2 separate regions of the Homo sapiens genome follow, and region 2 is linked to region 1. Evidence: fine-mapped expression QTL. Tissue or cell type: whole blood. Region 1 holds a variant in brackets; the other region holds the start of a gene. All regions are shown on one strand. Distances are from middle to middle.

What was found. PIP is the estimated chance that this variant, and not a neighbour inherited with it, causes the effect.
Region 2: NPTXR starts here. The variant in region 1 is fine-mapped to the expression of NPTXR in whole blood (TOPMed, PIP above 0.99).

What each region holds. Positions count from the first base shown.
Region 1 is chr22:38,764,854-38,770,072 of GRCh38, reverse strand. No RefSeq gene overlaps it. Among named protein-coding and RNA genes, the nearest start is that of SUN2, 11 kb to the right of the region's middle. The variant G/A (reference allele first, on the strand shown) is at 2,716.
Region 2 is chr22:38,841,124-38,846,342 of GRCh38, reverse strand. NPTXR (neuronal pentraxin receptor) reads left to right here and starts at 2,315. Exons shown (of 5, transcript NM_014293.4): 1 at 2,315-3,108. The coding sequence starts at 2,485. RefSeq lists a silencer at 2,727-2,796.

The DNA.
Region 1 (5,219 bases):
GAAGGGACATTTGAGTTGGGGCTGGAAGAGATTTCAGTGGGCCCCAGGGAGATGAGGAGCGGTCAGGGCACTGCAGCCAACGAGCTATGAGTGACGAGTGCATAGCGCTGAAGACGGGGCTGGGCGAGACACATGTGTTATTGGGCCCACAGTGGGGAGCCACGAAGGGCCTCCTGCAGGAGAGGGATGCCACAGGGCCAGGCCTGAGGAACACAGGCCCCTTCTTCCAGGTCTGAGGGCCGGTAACCTGCTCTGCCAGTAAGGGATGGAGCTGGGCCTCAAGCTATGCTATAGGCACGGAGAGCAGCAGCCTCCTAAGTCAGCTCCCACTTACTTCTTGCCTGATGATAACCAGAGGGACCATGCTGGTTAGCGTGGCCTAACCTCCCAGCCAACAGTTTATCCACTTCCCTGGACAAAACCCAATGCTTCAACCTGACCTGCGAGGCCCAGCATGGCCTGGTCCCACCACCTCTCAGCAGGGCCCAGCTCTAATCCTCAAGTCTGGGGACCCAGGATCAGTGAGGTCCAAACCAAGTTGGCAGAGCCACCAAGCCAGGCCCCACCCAGCTCCACTTCCACATCAACAGGGGTGACCAGCATGACCTGCAGGACCTCCAGTGAGGGAGGATACTGTGGCCTCGGGTCAGCCAATTCCCCCCTCAGCCCCCAGCCCACGCTCCCTGTCCCCAGCCCTGTCCTCTCTGACCTCATCTCCACCTTGCAGTCCAGAAGTCTTGGGTACCCAACTGAGGCTGACTGTGACATGCCCCAAACACAGGCAGGCCCTCTTCAAGCCCAGGAGGTGAGGGCCTGGGTCGGGGGACCCTCTGGCTCTGCCATGGGCTTGCTGTGTGTCTCTGGGGCCAGCCGCCCCCTCCCTGGGCCCATCTCTTGTCTATGCCCCAAGGGACCCCTTTACGGTGCACTGTTCAGCAGAACGTTGGGAATCCCTGCACCCCTGCCCCTCTGGATAATACAATCCTCCAATCCTGCCCTGGCCGCATCCTGCTATTTCTCCAAGATGAGCTCCTTCCTCCACCACGCAGTCTCGCTGCAGCCGGCGGCGCAGGGCGACCTCTCATGGCCACATGTGGGCATAACGTGGCTCATCAACGGGGCGCTGGGAGGACACTGGGAGGGCTGGCCAAGCCCTGGGAGGACTTGGGGGAGACACTGGGAGGACTGCAGTTGAGGGGGCCTGCTGGGAGGGTGCTGGGGGGCTCACCTCACCCTTCTCTGAGGCTCAGCCTCTTCACACTCATTGGGCCCAAGTGAGAAAAGGTGTGGTGGCTTCGAGTCAGGCCTGACTTCCTTCTGCTCTTCAGTCACAAATATTTATTAATTAATTATTTATTTATTTATTTATTTATTTATTTATTTATTTTCTTGAGACAAAGTCTTGCTCTGTCACCCAGGCCAGGGTGCAGTGGCGTGATCAGCTCATTGCAACCTCCCCCTCCCAGGTTCAAGCGATTCTCCTGCCTCAGCCTCCCTAGTAGCTGGGATTACAGGCACCTGCCACCATACCCGACTAATTTTTGCATTTTTAATACTAATGGGGTTTCACCATGTTGACCAGGCTGGTCTCAAACTTCTGACCTCAGGTGATCCACCCACCTCAGCCTCCCAAAGTGCTGGGATTACCGGCATTAGCCATCGCATCCAGCCAGTCCAAGGCTTCTTGACTAGGGCAGCTGAGGTGGAGGCTCCCCCACCTTCTCGCCACTGCGCCCAGCCACAAATATTTATTGAGCACCTGCTGCATGCCCTACCTGTGTAGGTCCTAGAGCAGCCACCTCAGAGCAGGCAGGTCCGCACCTCGCTGCACCTGCAGGCCTGCGGGCTTCAGCTCCTCCTCTTCCCACTCCGAGCTCACCCCATGTTGCCGCTCAGTATTGCCGGTCTCACAGGGCCCCTGAGGGCAGAGGGGAAGGTGCTCAGGTCCTGTCCAGGGAGACACCTGGGACCTGGTGGTCCCATTGGCAATCATCACCCACCTCTTCCTCCCACTGCTCTTGCCTCCACACTCCGAGGCCCCTCCTTTCAGAAGGTTATTCCAAGAGCTCCCACCTGGGTGCCCAAATCTCATTGCCCCAGTGCTGCTGTCCATGCTGGGTGCCTCTCTGGGAGCTCGTGGGAGTGACTGGTTCATCCTCTTCCCCCAGGGGATAAGATAATGGAATTGGATGGGGAAGCTCTGGGGAACACTCCAACATTCCCTCCACAGCATCTTCGGATTCTTCACTTAGGTTTGCCTAAAGTGGGGCAGTTCTGAGCTCCCTGCAGGGGAAGGGGGCTCCCTACCCGCTGTAGGATGCACAGGCCCCAGCATCTGCGTTTAGGGAAAATGCAGGCAGGGCCAGCCCCTCTTGGCATCCTTTTTGTGGCTGGGAGTGTCACCTATAGAACAGAGTCCACCCCACCCTGCAAGCCTACAGTCACCCTGAAAAGGGACCCTGGCCTGCTCCGTACCGCCCCCTCCTCCTCAAAAAACAACCCCCTCCCAGGAGCGTCCCTCTAGAACCGCGTACAGCTGTGGGTGCACCTGAGGAGGCAGGGCGGGGAAACAGCGGCCAGGTGCGCTGCCAGGATCATACAGCTAATGTGGCCAAGCAGACAAGTAAGTCCAGAGCAGGCTCAAAGCCTCGTGTTCTTGAGGGATCCAGGCCCATTTCCCCCAACTGTAGAATGGCCTGCCTGTGGGCTGTTTGG[G/A]GAAGGAAGCCAGGGGAGGAAGGGAGGTGGGCATGTGCACAGCCCTGAGCCATGTTCTCACTGTGGCCTATCCACAGCCCCTCAAGGCAGACGTCACTACCCCACTTTTAGCAGGTAAAGGAGCGAAAGCCCCGGGAGGTGAAGCTGCGCCCATGGTCTGTCTGGAAGGTGTCCCTGGGGCTGTGGAAGGCGTGCCGCGGTGGCCCCTCCACCCAGGACCAGCAGTGGCCATCCCTGGCCTAGCATGAGTGCCCCTGCCCTCTGCCAGGGTATCCTGACGTCAGTGGGACTCCGGAGCAGAGGGCCAGGGAGGGAATGGGCCATGCAGCTAGCTATGTTTGGGAGTGTTCCAGGCAGGTGGATCACCTGAGGTCGGGAGTTCAAGACCAGCCTGACCAACATGGAGAAACCCCTCCTCTACTAAAAATACAAAATTAGCCAGGCGTGGTGGCACATGCCTGTCATCCCAGCTACTCAGGAGGCTAAGGCAGGAGAATGGCTTGAACCCGGGAGGCAGAGGTTTCGGTGAGCGAAGATCGCGCCATTGCACTCCAGCCTGGGCAACAAGAGCGAAACTCCATCTCAAAAAAAAAAAAAAAAGAAAAAAAAGAGGAGCGACCTGAAGCAGGACTAAAGAGACTATAAGGACATTACGTGATTATGTGAGTCCTGGTGTGACCCCACAAATCCCTCTTCTCTGCACCAGAGGACAGCCCTGCGGGGTCTCACTCACTGGGAACCCCATGCCTGGCACAAGATAATGAAAGCAGTCAATGGCCATGCCCTTCTCTTGGAGAACAGAGGCCCAGAGAGGAATATGGACTGAGCCAACATCCTTCCCTGAGTTCAGGGTGCACATGGGGCCATGTCTGCTGACAGCCCTTCGGCCTTTCCACGAGACCCGAGCCTATGAGACATCAATCCCCCTTCCCTGGGCCCAGCCTGGCCAACCACTGCCCCAAGACTGGGGTGGGCCCGGGTCCACCGGAGCTCCTCAGCCAAGCTATGCCCATGACTCTCCCAGCTGCCCCTAGGGGGAGACAGACTCGCCTGCTGTGCCTGGGTCGGAAGGATTCCCGCTGCTCATCCTCATCCTGGATACAGGTGGCAGGCGCCAAGCCAGGGTGAGTCACAGGGCAGCTGGCCAGGCCAGTTGTCTTTTTTTTGTTGTTGTTGTTTTTTCTGTGGCAGCAGAATCCCTTTTTTCAAATCAATTTGCCCAGGGAACCCCAGTGTGTCAACCAGAGCAGAACAGCTCTAGTCGAAGTAGGGGGAGTCGGCAGGGATCCTGTCCTCAGATCTTAGGGAACATTCTGGCAAACTGCTGTCTGGCCACCTCCTCATTCTACCTGTGGGCCAGTGAGGCTCAGAGAGGTTTGGGCTTTGAGTAGTTGGTCAGAATGGCTGGCAAGCAACCAGCCCACCTACCTGTAGCCTGTCCTAGAGCACTGGATGAGAGCAGGGGCTACTGACTCCCAGCTCATTGGGTGGCCCCTGAGCCCCACTGAGCCCCACTGGAGTCCCCTGTGGCCCCTTCCCCAGGTTGACAGAGCCTTTCCCAATCTGAGCACTTCCAGGGTGACAGTGGCTGCAAGGGCTACATGGTGAGCCCCCCACTGTTACCCCAAGTGGCCTGGGGGAGCCCCTTTCCTACCTTTTCTCCAGGAACCTTCAAGGTCCCAAGGCCTAGCAGAGCTCCTCAGGAGTCTGTGTGTGTGTGTGTTTCGATGTATCCAAGTGTGTCTGTGTGTCTCTAATGTATGTGTGTCTATGTCTTTGTGTATCTCTGTATGTGTCTGTGTGGGGTGTGTGTGCACCTGTGTCTGGAGGTGAACAGAAACCCCTCTTCGTCTCTCCTGAGCGCTGAGAGAGCAGGTGAGAGCCTCCCCTGGGGTGTTCTGTCCTCTGTCACCGTCCATGACCTGGTGATGTCTATGAACCACCACAAGTGAGGTTCCCAGGACTTTAGACACAGACTCAGAGTCTTAGGCCTGGGGAGGGCCCAGGGATACTCAGCCCCACCCCTTCTTGATGCTAAAATGTGCGGCACAGATTATTCATTGAGTCATACTATTTTATTTTATTTTATTTTATTTTATTTTATTTTATTTTATTTTATTTATTTATGTTTCAGACACAATCTTGCTCTGTCGCCCAGGCTGGAGTGCAGTGGCATGATCTCGGCTCACTGCAACCTGCACCTCCTGGGTTCAAGTGATTCTCATGCCTCAGCCTCCCGAGTAGCTGGATTACAGTCGCCCACCGCCACGCCCGGCTAATTTTTGTACTTTTAGTAGAGATGGGGTTTCACCATGTTGGCCAGGCTGGTCTCGAACTCCTGACCTCAAGTGATCTGCCCACCTTGACCTCCCAAAGTGGTGGGATTACAGGCATGAGCCACCACACGCAGCCAAGTCATAATATTTTAAATGATTTTTTAAAAATCATTTGAAATAAAAATAATTTCATTTAACCTTCGTAGTAACCCCACAAACACTCTTGTC
Region 2 (5,219 bases), 76 kb before region 1:
CCTCTCCTCCTTCCTCTGCCTCCAGCAGTGGCATTAGGAACTAGTTCAGCAAACATTCACCGAGAAGCTTCCCTGGGCAGGCTTCATGCTGAATGCTGGGGATAGAGATGGGCCAAGGAAGAAGGGAGAGGCTGGGCGCCATGGCTCACGCCTGTAATCCCAGCACTTTGGGAGGCCGAGGCAGGTGGATCACCTGAGGTCAGGAGTTCAAGACCAGCCTGGCCAACATATTGAAACTCCATCTCTACTAAAAATACAAAAATTAGCTGGGCGTGGTGGCGTGCACCTGTAGTCCCAGCTACTTGGGAGACTGAGGCAGGAGAATTGCTTGAACCCGCAAGGCAGAGGTTCCAGTGAGCCGAGATCACGCCACCGCACTGCAGCCTGGGTGACAGAGCAAGACTCTGTCTCAAAAATAAAATAAAATAAAAAATAAAGTCATTCTAGGAGATCAACAGACCAGTTTAAACACAATTTGACTCCAGCCTCTGGACCCATTTATCCAAACTGTCCCCAAAGTCTCAGGGGGCAGCTCAGGTAAAGGTGGCACCATTTGGTGCCCAAGTCACAGTGGCTCTGCTGCTCTTGGCAGCAGCCCTCTCTCTTGGCATCTCCTGTCCTTCCCTGGACTTCCTATGACAGTTTCTCCTGGGGATGCTATCTCCGTGTTTCTGTCTTCACGGCACACGTGTAGATGTACCAGGAGTCCCGATGTCTCATGCATCCCCAGGACTTTAGCAGGGCCTACCGCTGGCCTTTGCCTTCCAAGAGCCCAGCCCATCTCTCTGTCCATGAGATGCTTCCTCCAAGCCCAGCTGCCTGCCCTGGGTTTTGAGGTTACGACTTCAGTGAGCACCAGCACACATCCACGCACACACAGCACTCAGGTTCCTGGCATACAGCGCTTGTGTTTGCTTCTCTCCTCTTTCACAACTCAGGTATGGATGAAAATCCCTGGCTCCTAGAGATGGGTGAACAGGGTGGACATCATCCTAACATGTGTGGAGAGAGGGAGGTGGAGCACGTGTGCCTGGGAACACTGGACAAAATCCCCGTGGCTGGAGAGCGTCCCCCAGGGTTGTGGCTTCCTGGGAAACATTCCGGTCTCTCCCCACCACCAGCGCTATGTGAAGTACACTCGAAACCACAGTGGTAGCCGTGGTGGTCCAGAGATCCTGGTTTGCGCTTTCCCTTCAAGTCAAAAATGCAGGCTTGGAAGGGAGACAGAGCTGGGAATAACCACAGCCCTCCCAAGGCCCTTCCAGCCCTGGGAATCCGTATTGGTCAGGAAAGACCTCATGGAAAATTGGAGCTGGGGATAAAGTGTGGAGGATAGTAGGATTGTTTTTAAGTTTTTAATTGCAAAGTTAATTTTCAACAAAATATATATAGACATTTTTGACAGAAGAAAGTAAAACGCTCCTCTGCCACCCCCACAGCACAGCCCACTCCCATTCCTGCTGTTCCTTCTGGGCCTGGTCCACATGCCCACCAGGCACGTGGCACCGCTTGCCAACGAAGGCAGACTGCAGTGGGGGTGGGGGGTTTCTCTGGACCTGTGAGGCTCTAAGCCCCCAAGGATTCAGAGGAGAGAATTTCCATCATCCTCTGAGATCACAGGAAGATTCTGTAATGAGGGTGGCGGGGAGTGAACTCTGCTCCTTCAGAAGGTTGGAGGTGGGGGTGACGGGCAGGTGGCCACAGTATAAACAGAAGTTAGGTCAAAATCCGAGCCTCCCCCCAACCCCCAACACTGGCCTCTTCTCCACCTCTAACCGCTCCCACTCCAGCCCCATCCACAGTCTGGTCCGGTGAAACGTGCCTAAGCTCGCAGGCGGCTCCAACGCAGCCACCCGGTGACCTTGGACAGAGGCCTGACCTCAGGTGTCTCAGTTTCCTCATTTCTATTGTGAGCCTGTCCACGGCAAGGCTCAATTGCGACCGAGCTTGTGGCGCGCCCAGTGCACAGCCCCACCCGGAAGAAAGCTCCCTCCCGGGTGGATGTGAACATAACCGGCTTGGGGAGGGGGCCCGAGCACGGGAGGGCTGGGATGGGGGTCACCCAGGAGCCCCGCCGCGCGGCCCTCGGGTCGCCGGCCCCTGCGCTGTGACCGCGGCGAGATAAGGTCCCAGGCGCTGCCCTCGCTCCTCGCCGCATCCCCGGCGGCGCCCCCAGCCGGGCGCCCGGCACTGAACGGGTGCGGGGCTGGGCCGGGGCCAGGGCCGGCCCGGGGAAGCGAGTGGGGCGGGGCCGCCGCGCCCGCTCCCCCTCCCCGCCGCCTGCCGTCTTCTCCTCCTCCCGCCGCCCGGGCTCAGAGCGGCGGCAGCAGCGGCCGCGGCGACAGCTCCAGCTCCGGCTCCGGCTCCGGCTCCGGCTCCGGCTCCCGCGCCTGCCCCGCTCGGCCCAGCGCGCCCGGGCTCCGCGCCCCGACCCCGCCGCCGCGCCTGCCGGGGGCCTCGGGCGCCCCCGCCGCCCGCCTCACGCTGAAGTTCCTGGCCGTGCTGCTGGCCGCGGGCATGCTGGCGTTCCTCGGTGCCGTCATCTGCATCATCGCCAGCGTGCCCCTGGCGGCCAGCCCGGCGCGGGCGCTGCCCGGCGGCGCCGACAATGCTTCGGTCGCCTCGGGCGCCGCCGCGTCCCCGGGCCCGCAGCGGAGCCTGAGCGCGCTGCACGGCGCGGGCGGTTCAGCCGGGCCCCCCGCGCTGCCCGGGGCACCCGCGGCCAGCGCGCACCCGCTGCCGCCCGGGCCCCTGTTCAGCCGCTTCCTGTGCACGCCGCTGGCTGCTGCCTGCCCGTCGGGGGCCCAGCAGGGGGACGCGGCGGGCGCTGCGCCGGGCGAGCGCGAAGAGCTGCTGCTGCTGCAGAGCACGGCCGAGCAGCTGCGCCAGACGGCGCTGCAGCAGGAGGCGCGCATCCGCGCCGACCAGGACACCATCCGTGAGCTCACCGGCAAGCTGGGCCGCTGCGAGAGCGGCCTGCCGCGCGGCCTCCAGGGCGCCGGGCCCCGCCGCGACACCATGGCCGACGGGCCCTGGGACTCGCCTGCGCTCATTCTGGAGCTGGAGGACGCCGTGCGCGCCCTGCGGGACCGCATCGACCGCCTGGAGGTGAGCGCCGCGCGCCGTCGGGGGAGCCGCCCGGGTGGTGTGAGGGGCCGCCCGGCCGCGGTCGTCCGGCGGTCCCCGAGCCTCCGGTCTCCCGTCTGTGTTCCGGGGACGATCGCGCCTTCCTCGCTGGCGAGGCGGGGGGATTTCGATAGGGAACGCGGGCAGGCGTCTGGCACGGTGACTGAGGCACAGAGGGCGCGCCAGAAAGATTCGCTCCCCACCCTTTTCCGTCTCCAGGCACCTCTCTGAGCCTCAGTTTCTGTGTCTGTAAAATAGGTATAACAGTGTCCACTTGTAGTGGAAATTGAATCAAATGTAGGTGTGTGAAAATGCTTGGCACGTACTAGGACCTCATTAAATGTCCCTTTCATTTCCTTCTTCCGGACACCCCCAAATCAGCCCAGCTCCACGCTCACACTTTATGGCCAGGAGATGGATGCGCTGTCCAAAGGACTTGGGGTCCTCCCCTCATTACACAGAGCCGGGAACAGAGTGCCCTATAAGACAAACCTGGGTGCCCCTCACCACCTCCCTACCCTGAATCTCCCACTCTGGCTCAGACTATGACCCAAACCGCAGGAGCTCAGGTGCCAGGCGCCCAGCCTCACACACCTGGAAGCCCACAGCTCTTGGGTGGGGGCTGAATGGAGAACAGGGCCCCCCGAGCTCCTCCTCCTCCACTCACTTTTCCAGGCTTTCCTGACTCAGGCTTGGGGTCAGACACAAGGGGTCCAGCATGGGGGAACCCACTCTTGGCTCTCATGTGACCCTGGGCCAGTCATTTCCCCCCTGGAGTCCCATGGCCACCTTCCTCCCTGTAAGAATGAATTTGGGGCTCCCAGAAGTGCAAGGCAGACAGACTGGGCAGGACAAACATCCGGGACACATTCACTACCCCAGCCATGGCCTGACTTCCAGACCACAAGGAAGGGGGTTAAGCAACAAAATCAGATCTGTGGAAGGAAGAGAGAGAAAGAGGCCAAAGCCCGCGCTGCCCCCTCTGCTACCTCCACCCAGGTGGAGTGCAGCAGGCAAGTTGGAGGGAGGAGAGAGGCGGGGAGTAAATGCAGGGACCCCTTACTCCCGGGGCTTTTTAAGTTAAATCCTGGGCAAGCAGCACTGGTGATGCCCACTCACAAGGCTGAGGATGTCGTGGTCTGACAGCCCTCCAGGACGTCTGTACTGGTGTCAGCACCCTCCCCACAGGGTGTCAGAGTGCAGCCAGTCAGCCATTGCAGCCAACCCCTCACCTTACGGATGAGAAAACTCAGCTCAGAAACGTCCTAAGAGAGGTGGCAGAGGCAGGAGAAAAGCCGGGCCCATACCCACCTCTTCCCCGACTCCAGCTCTGGGGGATTTCTAGGATGAGAGAACCAAGAGCAGGAAAATAATCAGGAAAAAGGTGAAAGTATGCAATGAAGGGAAGTCTTAGTTTTCTCGCCTGTAAAATGGGGATAGTAATAGCACCTACCTCACTGGGATATTAGGAGGATTAAGTACTTTATATGAAAGGCCAAGAATAGTGCCTGGCACACAGGTATGTTCAGTCAATTTGAGTGATGGCTATTTTTATCATTAAGCTATAATATTACTCATTTTTAAAATACAGCCAAAACTCAAAATAGGAACAAACAGGTTTTAGGCAACAGGTTTTAGTCATGTAAAAAACAATTTTTGACTTTCATTGAATAAACTTCCTCGTGCCTGCCATAGCCCCTGCCCCCACGCCCAGATGGCACAGGTGGCTCCTCCCACGTCTGGGGCTGGCAGGCTTGGACCTGCCTTGGACCTGTGCCCCCAGCACCTGCAGCATTTGGCAGGGTGGCCTCCCTTCCGGTTAGCCCGCTGAGGTTGGGGGGATCCTGGCAGCTGGAATTTGGCAACAGGTCAGCCTTCCAGGCTGGGGGAGCCCTGGCTTCCCCATGTATACCTTTTCCTCTTTTCTGAGTGCAGCAGCCACAGACAGAGAAGGGCGGGGCCCTGCTTGGCCACCAGGTCTGCTTTCTGAGCGTGGCAACAGCCACAGCTAGTCTTTTGGGGGCCTCTGGGAGGGGCTGGGGCTGGAGCTGGAGCACAGCAGACACAGGGTGAGACCACTTGGCTCAGCGGAG